Homo sapiens: one gene and its partners. The protein of the gene in region 2 interacts with the protein of the main gene of each other region in a pairwise test. Each region holds a gene or a part of one and is shown on either strand. Other genes may lie near its edges.

Region 1 (3,655 bases), on a different chromosome or scaffold from region 2:
TAGTTTATTTTGAAGCACCAAAACTCAAATATGTTAAATTAAAAAATATCAACACTTCAGTATGAGAAGCATAATAATTTTACTACTAACAATATTTGAACTATCACCCTTAAAAACTTTACAAAATGTTATGTCAATATTAAAATTAGTGGGCATTTATTGTATGCTATATTGATGCATGTAGTTTGATTGTTGGTATATATTATATATCTTGTCTTACCTCAACTTAATGTTATTAATAATTTATTTTGTTACTTTTATGGTTGTTCTGTTAAAAAAACAATGTTCTTAACAGGGGAAGGGACACATTTATGAATCAGAATCACCTGGAAAGATTCTCAAAGTACCAACGTGCCCGGAAATTCCATCACTCCCTACCTGTTCACAGACACACATAGCATTCAAGCATTTTCAATTGTGAAAGGGTAGAAGGAATGGAGTATACAATGTGTTTTTAAAAAGCTAGTTACTTTAAGCCAGGGGATGGCCAATTTTTTCTGTAAAAAATCAGACTGTAAATATTTTAGGCTTTGCGGGCCATGTGGTCTTTGTCACAACTATTCAATTCCACTGTTGTAGTTACATGTAGTTGTAACATGTAAACAACTAGGTATGGCTGTGGTCCAACAAAACTTTATTTATAAAAACATACAGGGGCCTGGATTTGGCTTATGGGCCATAGTTTGCCAACCCCTGAGGTAAGCATACATCCCATCTCATAAATATCTGTTGGTGTTCTATAAGTATAAAATATTTTTAAAGGCTTTCTGTGATCAAATAAGTTTGGGAAATACAAGTTTAAAGCTTTGCTACTCAGCGTGGTCCTGGGACCAGCAGGACCAGCAGGACCAGCAGGACCAGCATGACTTGAGAGCTTGTTGGAAATGCAGAATTTCAGGTCCTACTCCAGACCTACTAAATCAGAATCTCCATTTCAACAAGATCCTCAGATCATTCACATGCACATTAAAAGTTGAGAATCACTGCTCTGGAAATATAACCTTTGCCGTAAAGAAACATGTGACTAGGCAGAGCAGATTGCCAGCAATGTGACTTTAAAGTTCATAGTCCTTGTAGCTTCTGGACAAAGGTTTACAAAGGTTTCTTAGATAACAAAATAAATATTTTTACGTATCACATTACTATCCTACATAGTTCAAAACCACATTACCAATTTGAAACCTCCAAAGTCAAAGATAAAGAAGTTAACACCTATGTGTCCAGGGCTGGCATATTGAAAAGACATATATATGACACGTATTCATATGTACTTTTAGAACATTATACCTATCTCTAAAGCCCCCAAAACTTACCTAAAACTCCTATTAGTTGCAATAATTTATCTCCCTAGGTATTTCCTAATTTTTCTTAAATATTATAATTATGTATATAGAGAAAATGACTGGTAAAAGAATTTTTTTTTTTTTTTGCACAAACTTGAGGATTCAGCCCTTTCACTCATTCCAATCCCTCCACTGTTCATGGATTCAGTAAGTCAACAAATCTTTATTGAATACCCACTATGGAACAGGTCCTGAAGACACAAAGGTTAATCATACAGAAGAGCACCTGCTTTTACAACATTTACAGATATGTGTAAATGAACAGCAAGTCAAAAAAGAAGACACTTTATAGTTTGCAGTTTACCTTGATTTCATCAAGGTTATTTGGATTTTTCACTCGTCGGAAATAACTAGAGTTGATTCTACATGGCTTCATCCAGACAGGTTGATTTAAGTTGGGATCCTCAGCAAATATTTCCTCAAAAATCTCTTTTGTTAAATCAAAAACCGCCTTGATAGAGAAAAACAAAACAAAACAAAACAAAATGGCTAAGAATCCAAATTTCAGACAATGGGAGAAAAGTTTAAAAACTAAAATTATCCTTTTATTTCACCTACCTGTTTGTAGACCCTTTTACTAGTGCTTTCTATATCTAGACCTTTACTGGCACAGCCAAGCAGTTTTGTAGGAATACTGATGCTATGAAGATCGTGGCCTAATTCTTTCCATTTCCAAAGTTCTTCTGCTGCATTATGTACAAGAATCTCTACTTCTTCTGCAGTATGGGGGACTGCCAATAATGTTTCACATGGTTGTTGGGTTACTCTTTTAGGTTCTGCCATTAGAGGTACAATGGTTTCTTCTGCCTTATTTTTTTGGATCTTGTGAGAAGAGCTCAAACCAAAGTCTTCATCAAACCAGTCTTGATCATCTCCTAACGCGCTCAGGAACTCCCGGCTGAGTTCAAGTTCAGCAAGTCTCTTAGCAAGTTCTTCCTGCCCACTGGCACCAAATACTGGGCTCTCCTATAGAAATGGAACCATTCAAACAGAGCACCATTTAGGGACCTCATATCATTTTTTTTTAAAAAAAGACAGAGTAAATGCATTATTTATATATCTAATATTTCTCTATAAGTAAGCAGAATAAAAAACAATATGGTGGCTACTAATAAACAATCTAAGAAAAAGTTATCCTGTTCCCTCAATTCTACTTATATAAACCTTGCATATAACTGAATTTTTATAAAATGTTTATTGATTAGGGCTCTCCCCGCTTTTTGTATTATCATTATTCTGTTTCTAAAGAACTGTCTATGGGATATGGAAATGGGATATAAAATTTCTCACCTCTGGTGACCATCTGGCTCAAGTTACTCAAAGTCATTACTTTTGCTCAACTGTCCATGGGCAACATAAACAAGCTGATGGTCTGAGTGCATGTCATAGTGGATCTATTTCATTTTACCAGAATCAACATCACAACTGCTAACCTCTGCAGGCCAACCATGACTGAGTAGATATGTAAACAATTTCACAGGCAAAAAAGAATTGGGTGGTGAGCCACTGGAAAGCTCCATGGAACGAATTTGTTCAGTGAATCTGGAAGGAGATGTAATCTATGGACAGTACAGGGGTTGTCAACTCAGCAGTTTAAATGGATGTTTTAGTTCCCCAAAACCTGCCAGTGCTTGTGACAACCCTATATTGACTACTCATGACATAATAGAGGACAATTACACTTCAGCCAGGAAAAACAGCTACAAGGCCTTTAAAAACCAGTACAGTGATCCTTCTCTAATAAACAACACGTCAAGGGAAAAAAAACCTATCAGGAGTCACAGAATTAAAATGTACTATATAGGCAAGGTAAGTTGCCTTGTTAAAAGTGTCAAAAGGTATACTGATACTTTTTCTAGACGAAATACTCACCGGTCTGGGACACATATCTGGAGAGGAAATCTCTTCTTTTTCATCTTCCAATTCAGAACTTAAGAAGCAACCTGAAATACTTGGCGACTGTTCCTCAACATTTTGGGATAGGTCTTGGGGTGTTACTTTCTTTTGGTCATCACCAAGAAGCTCCTGATTGCTAAGCTGGATTTTCTCATCCCTGGTTTTTTTGATTTGTTGTAGTTGATTGACTGTGTCCTTTACAAAGACTTTTAGTAAACTGTCTGTCAGTAAGCTGATTTTTTCCAGTTGTTGTTTTGACTTTTTTTCCTCATTTAGTGATGACTTCAGCTGGGCTTCCAGTTGGTTTTTTTCTCTTGTTAAAAGATCCAGAAGTGGTGTACAAAGCTTTTCTGAAGCTTCAGCATATAGGTTGTCTTCCTCTTCTGTAAACTGCTGTTGCTTCTCCAATTCTTCGG
Region 2 (3,655 bases):
TCTTTGGTTTTTATACGAAATTCAAAATAATAGATTCTTTTGGTTAGGTTGACAGTATCTCTTTGTAGTTGTAATTTCTTTATGCTACGCATGACATACAACCAACTTATCTATCGATCATCCTATAAATTTTACATAGTATAAGAAACAATGATAAGTATTCAAACATTACTTAGATTAGAAAAAGTATGACAACGTTAAAATTCTAACAGATAAAAAGCAGAGATTCCATTTTTTTGCATTAAAAAAGGGAAGAAAAATCACATATTAGAAGCACCAAATTACTGATCCAATAAAATTTCAAGACTAAAACAATATCTGTTCAATATATTTAAAAAATATTTTTGTTATTAAGATTAGAGAAGACAATTACTTCTAATTCATCTCTTAAGCATTAAAAGTAATTTATAATTAGAAAAACAATCCAAACTTACCTCATTTTTGTACTTAACTGTTGAGAAAGGCTTTGATCCTATCATACCTGGGAATATTAGAAAACGTAACTATATTAAACATATCTTTCTAATACTATAAAAAAAGAACAATTTCTTTTGTTTTTTTGAAATGAAGTCTTGCTGTTTGCCCAAGCTGGAGTGTAGTGGCGTGATCTCAGCTCACTGCAACCTCCGCCTCCTGGGTTCAAGCAATTCTTGTGCCTCAGCCTCTCGTAGCTGGGACTACAGGCGTGCGCCACCACGCCCAACTGATTTTTTTTATTTTTAGTAGAGATGGGGTTTCACCGTGTTGGTCAGGCTGGTCTTGAACTCCTAACCTCAAGTGATCCACCTGCCTCGGCCTCCCAAAGTGCTGGGATTACAGGCGTGAGCCATGGCGTCCAGCCAAAAAAAGAACAATTTCATGTATTTTTTTTTAAATTTATTTTTATTTTTATTTATTTTTATTTTTTATTTTTATTTTTTTTTGAGACAGAGTTTCGCTCTGTCGCCCAGGCTGGAGTGCAGTGGCAAGATCTCGGCTCACTGCAACCTCTGCGTCCCAGGTTCAAGCAATTCTTCTGCCTCAGCCTCCCGAGCAGCTGGGACTATAGGTGCACGCCACCATGCATGGCTAATTTTTGTATTTTTAGTAGAGATGGGGTCTCAACAAGTTGGCCAGCCTGGTCTCGAACTCCTGACCTCAGGTGATCTGCCCGCCTTGGCCTCCCAAAGTGCTCGGATTACAGGCATGAGCCACTGCGCCCGGCTTATTTTTATTTCTTTATTGTTTTTCACTCTGTTGCCCAGGTTGGAGTGCAGTGGCGTGATCTCTGCCTCCCGGGTTCAAGAGATTCTCTTGCCTCAGACTTCCAAGTAGCTGGGACCACAGGTGCGTACCACCACACCTGGCCAATTTTTGTACTTTTTTTTTTTTTTTTCAGTAGAGCCGGGGTTTTGTCATGTTGGCCAGGTTGGTCTTGAACTCCTGACCTCAAGTGATCCGCCTGCCTCGGCCTCCCAAAGTGCTGGGATTACAGGCGTGAGCAACCACGCCTGGCCGATTTCACATATTTTAAATGAAGTCTTCAGTTTCTAATCATTCACTTATTGTTTTCAGAATTGGAAAGCAATTACATTAAAAAGGCAACAAATATTTAAACAAGAGTATGGGGAAATGGGTTTTCTCAAACATTACTGGTATTAACATAATGTGAAATAATCCTTCAGGAGGGCATTTTGGCCGCAGTTATCCAAATGGAAAACATGTGCTTATTTCTCACCTTTTAAAATCCATTAAGTACTAACATATGTGTTTAGTTGTATGTATTAATAATGTTCACTATGGCATGGCTTATGACAGCATTCATAAAAAACTCTGGAAACAACATACATTATCCATCAATATGGAAATGGATAAATATATTACAGTTCCCTTATACAATGGATTCTTACACTGCATTGTTATGGAGAAAAAAGCAAATTATTGAAAAATAGATATAGGATGATCCCAGTTCTTGTTGTGGGGATAAAACTTCTAAAGTGTAAACATTGTGGATATTTATAATTATACACACAAGACAATAATTATTTTTGTTTAGGTATGGTTGACAGAGCTTTCACTTTTTACTTTATAAACCTGTGCTCTGATTCAATGTTAAGAGTGCCTGTTCAGAAAAATGCATTAAAATAACAAAAGAAACTCAATTATATATGTCATTCCATTTAGACATTCAGTCATGTGCCACATACCAATGTTTTGGTCAGCAACAGACTACATATACGACAGTGGTCCCATAAGATTATAATGCAGCTGAGAAAATTTTTTTTTTTTTTTTTGGGACAGTTTCCCTCTGCTGCCCATGCTGGAGCACACTGGCATGATCTTGGCTCACTGCAACCTCCACCTCCCGGGTTCAAGCGATTCTCCTGTCTAAGCTTCCTGAGTATTTGGGACTACAGGCATGCGCCACCATGCCTGGCTTTTTTTGTATTTTTAGTAGAGACAGGGTTTCACCACGTTGGCCAAGCTGGTCTTGAACTCCTGACCTCAGGTGATCTGCCCACCTCAGCCTCCCAAAATGCTGGGATTACAGGTGTGAGCCACTGTGCCCAGCCAGAGCTGAGAAATATCTATTGCCTAGTTGTTGCCCTCATGTCAGAGTGTAACACATTACCTTTTCTATGTTTAGATATACAAATAACATTGTGTTACAACTGTCTACAGTATTCAGTACAGTCACATGCTGTGCAGGTTTGCAACCTGGGAGCAATAAGCTATATACCACATAGCCTAGGTGTGTAGTAGGCCATACAACTAGATTTGTTTAAGTACACTCTGATTGTACAACACAATCACCTAACAATGCATTTCTCAGAATGTAATCTGTCACCAAGCGACACATGACTGTAATACTGTGGTCAGTCACAAAATAAAATGCAAAGCTAATTTACCTATTTCTGTAGTACCTCTTTGCTGCTTATGTTTACTCAGCCCTTCCATGACATCCTGAATTCGCCAAAGTTCTTTCTGAATCTGTGCACGCTGAATTCCTGCTGATTCCGTCTATCAGTAAAAATGGATAGACCATATATAAGAAAAAAAATCATTCACTGAAGTTAAATGATTATATATTAATTATATAAATTACATCTAAAAATGCAAATTGCAGTGAATTAAGTGTTACGAATATTTAATATGATTGATGTGACTCTCCCAATTTTGCAAGTCCAGTGGCAAATATAAAAGACTGAGCAGAGCAAGAAAAATATTTAATTTTCATACTTAAATATACTATTTTAAATCTTTCCAATAAGCTTTGTCTTACATTATTTATGATACCAGGAAGGCATATTGATTAAAAGGGACCCAAAATGGAAAATACAAACAGAGAGAATGAAAACAGAGCAGAAACAAACCCCAAAAGAAAAAATAATTTCTGGGAGGGGGAGATGTGGCAGGGCATTGGGGAATGGGTGAGAAATGGAAGGTGTACTAACTTCCTAGGTTCTAGAACATAAAAACAACAACAAAGGTACAACTAACAAAATATATCAAGATGAATTTTGACTGACAGAGTTTAAATGTATTTTTTTATTTTTATTTTTTTTTGAGACAGAGTCTTGCTCTGTCGCCCAGGCTGGAGTGCAGTGGCAAGCTCTCAGTTCACTGCAGCCTCTGCCTCCTGGGCGCAAGTGATTCTGCTGCCTCAGCTTCCTCA
Region 3 (3,655 bases), on a different chromosome or scaffold from region 2:
AAGCCTCGGGTAGGTGTGCAAGTCTCTGCTGCTCTCTTTGTAGAAGAGGCAGGGGAGGTACCCGGGTGGTGAGCTTGTGCCTGGGCCAGCCTGGCAAGGGTAGATGTGCAGACTTCTGTGGATGCTAGTGTGTGTGTATAACGTCTGTGTGGGTTTGTGTCTCCGCCTACATGTGTACTTCTGATAAGTCTGAGTGTGTCTGCAGGATGTCAGTCTGTCTCTGGGACATATCCGGGTGTGTCTAGGGGTGTAAGATGTGTATATGAGAATGTGTTTCTGACGTGGGGGTTGCAGCAGGGTCTGAGCCTCCGTTGTGTCTGTTTGGTGATGTGTGCGTGTGATAGAATGGGAGTTGTGTGGCTGCATGGGTTTGTGCACTTCTCTGAGTGAGTATCCTCTCTAATCTGTCTGGAGGCGTGCTTCTGAAAGCATCCAACACCAGCGAGTCACTGGATGGGTCTGTGAGATGTGTGCAAGTGGCTGTGTGTCTCTGAGCTTGAGCTGTGAACAGTATATGTGCATTTGTATGTGCAAGACAGAGTATGCCCAGGGACACAGGCTCAGCCCCAAGGAGGCTGCGGCTGGGACTCAGGGTAAGGAGCAGCCAAGAGCTTTGCTGACTGTGGTGACCTCCTCTCCTCCACCCAGTGACAGACTAGAGTCCTCCCCCTGTAGCTCCTGGGAGCCAAGAAGAGAAGAGCTACATGCAGAAGCCTACTACGTGGCCACTGGGTCCAGACACCCAGCACAGGGCCTGGTACCCAGGAGCCACTGGGGAAATATGTGTTGAATGAATGAATGAATGCCTGGAGGAACGGATAAGGGATCGGCAATGACTGGGACACACTAACACTCACTGTGCACTCCATCTGCGTCCTCACATTGAAAAGGGTCCTCACGGCCCTGGGCGGGCGTGCTTGTCCCCCATGTTACAGAAGGAACAATCTCACACACATGCACACACAAACATCCTCCACTAACCCCCACCTCCCCCAGGCTCCGGGCCCCCAGCATGCCTTAGCCTAGAGCCTGGCCCATGACAGGATTCCTCTCACCAAATGTGTCTCAGCCTAGACACGCTAGTTAACAACCAAAAGCTCACTGCTCTGGTCACACTGCAGAAAGAACAGGCCCAGAGTTAGACAAACCTGGGTTGGAATCCTGGCTATGTAATTTAGAGCCTCCATTTACTGATCTGTAAAATGGCAAGTGGGGATGGATTAGGTGCTTCCTCCAGGCCCTTCTGAGCTGACATCTAGACTGGCTGCACTTCACTCACATCTAGAATCACCAAGGAGGGAAAACACACACACACACACACACACACACACACACACACACACTGGCTGCACTTCACTCACATCTAGAATCACCAAGGAGGGAAAACACACACACACACACACACACACACACTGGCTGCACTTCACTCACATCTAGAATCACCAAGGAGGGAAAACACACACACACACACACACACACACACACACACACACACACACACACACACACACACACGGCAGGGAAGGTGATCACACCTTTCCGTTCTCCCTGGGGCAGCTACTGATGTATTAACATTCTAAAACTAAGGAAATCCACCCTCCTGCATTCTCCCAGTTCCTCCAAGAATGAAGACACAGACATCCTGTCTGCCTATTGGCTATGAATAATAACAATTCCTCAGGCGACTTGGGTTCACTGCTTGCAAAATGTTTTCTTGTCTATTCACACTTCCCTGATTCCTGATGACCATCGTATGAGGTTGTCCAGGCAGGTTCCATCACCTTTACTTATTTTTTTTTGAGACAAGAGTTTCACTCTGTTGCCCAGGCTAGAGTGCAGTGGCGCCATCTCGGATCACTGCAACTTCTGCCTCCCAGGGTCAAGTGATTCTCCTGCCTCAGCCTCCTGAGTAGCTGGGATTACAGGCGCCCACGACCACGCCTGGGTAATTTTTGTATTTTTAGTAGAGATGGGGTTTCGCCACGTTGGCCAGACTGGTTTCGAACTCCTGACCTTAGGTGATCCGCCCGCCTTGGCCTCCCAAAGTGCTGGGATTACAGGCGTGAGTCACTGCGCCAGGCCCCATCACCTTTATTATACAGATGAGAAAAAAAGCAGCTCAGAGAAGCCAGGTAACTTGCCCATGGCCACACAGTAAACGGGAGAGTCAGGTTTCAAAGTCAGGTCTTCAGACTCCAACTCTCAGATTCCTCCATCCACACCCAGTGGGTTCCTACATGTTCTGGCCACATGGTACGTGCTTAATGGTTAGTGGTGATGAAAGGCTGGAAGACCTCAGATCACCGGGTCTTTGAAGGTCTCAGGTGACGTGTCTGCTCGGCAGCTAAAGCTGCATCTTAGAATCCTGGCACCTCAGTAGTTAATAACCTTCAGACTTCCTTGGCTAGAAGGGACCCAAGGTCAGGCAGCTCAACTGCAGCCACCACATCAATCTCCCTCTGAACCCTTCTCAAGCAATCATTCCACAAACCCTCTATCTTTATCCAAGCATGCAAGGTCATCCCGCCTCTCTCTGAATAATTAAAGTGACAGTGAGCTCACTACCTTCTCTGTAGAAGCTCCTTCTATCTTCTCACTGGGAGAGAGTTGCCCGATTTATGCTTTCCTCACTTGGACCCCAGAGCAGACCATACCAGACTGGAGATCACAGTCCTTCGCAGTTGACAGTTCCCAGTGACCCCTACAAGGGGGAGGTAAGCCTGAGCAGGGCCACCCACCAGACCTGGTGGGACCTCCTTCAACTCTGCTCCTGCAGGGGACATACTGGGGATTTGGAGTCCTTTCCCTTGTACTCAGTTTCTGCATCTTAGAGGCAAAGTAGTCCAGAAAGGCAGAAAACACATCAAGAGTCTAACACATGCTTACTCCAAGCCCTGGCAGCCTAGCGACCCTGCTCTGGGACCCACTCTGGCCACAGTTTTCCCATCTGTGGAATAAACAACACAACACCTCCAGTAATAACCCCTCTATTTATGGTCCACATTTAGTCTCTGGATTTTGACCCTGCCTCTGTGAGGCTGGCGGCTGGGATAAACAGATATACAGAGAAGTTAAGGGACTAACCCAAATGTACACAGTGAGAAGTGGCATGGGCTGGCCTTGCTCTCCTCTCTTACCCACACTCCTTCCCCTCTCTGGCCTTAGCGCTGTTCTTGAACTCAACGAGCATTCCAATTTCCCTTAGCCTGAAATCTTCTTACTCCAGACCCTCACTCAGTTGGCTCCACGGCATCCTGCAGCCCTCAGCCTCCCTGTGCACCCCAGCCCCCACCTTCGTGTGCTCCTGGCAAACTGTCCCCTTTACCCTCATTATGATCTGTGTTGTGATTTCTTGTATGACTATTGTTTAATTCTGGTCTCCCCAAAAGCTCTATGAAAACAGACACCTCATCCTCCCTTGTCCACAGCTGTATCCCAGATCTGCCCTAGCACACGGCAGGTTCTAAATAAACAGCTGCCGAATGAACCAATGAGGGGCCAGGAGAAAGAGCCCAGCCTGCCTTGGGTGATGAAGAGGATCTATTCTGCCCTCACAGAATCCACAAGAGAACAGGCTGGGTGCACATGGAAACATGTCCCGTGCCTCTGACAAGAGCAGTGATCAGAGGTTTACTACATACCAGGTGCTCTAATG

Evidence for each region.
Region 1: the proteins of PLEKHA5 (region 2) and CEP350 interact in a two-hybrid assay, tested with the Homo sapiens proteins (one large-scale study listed by BioGRID and IntAct).
Region 3: the proteins of PLEKHA5 (region 2) and MTCL2 interact in a two-hybrid assay, tested with the Homo sapiens proteins (one large-scale study listed by BioGRID and IntAct).

Annotation. Positions count from the first base shown.
Region 1 is NC_000001.11:180,094,177-180,097,831, reverse strand, and holds part of CEP350 (centrosome-associated protein 350), read right to left. Parts: coding exon 3,216-3,655; intron 2,310-3,215; coding exon 1,902-2,309; intron 1,795-1,901; coding exon 1,648-1,794; intron 1-1,647. UniProt on the Homo sapiens protein: Plays an essential role in centriole growth by stabilizing a procentriolar seed composed of at least, SASS6 and CPAP. Required for anchoring microtubules to the centrosomes and for the integrity of the microtubule network.
Region 2 is NC_000012.12:19,342,668-19,346,322, reverse strand, and holds part of PLEKHA5 (pleckstrin homology domain-containing family A member 5), read right to left. Parts: intron 3,001-3,655; coding exon 2,889-3,000; intron 482-2,888; coding exon 435-481; intron 1-434.
Region 3 is NC_000020.11:36,857,009-36,860,663, forward strand, and holds part of MTCL2 (microtubule cross-linking factor 2), read right to left. Parts: intron 2,866-3,655; exon of another isoform or gene 2,566-2,865; intron 1-2,565. UniProt on the Homo sapiens protein: Microtubule-associated factor that enables integration of the centrosomal and Golgi-associated microtubules on the Golgi membrane, supporting directional migration. Preferentially acts on the perinuclear microtubules accumulated around the Golgi.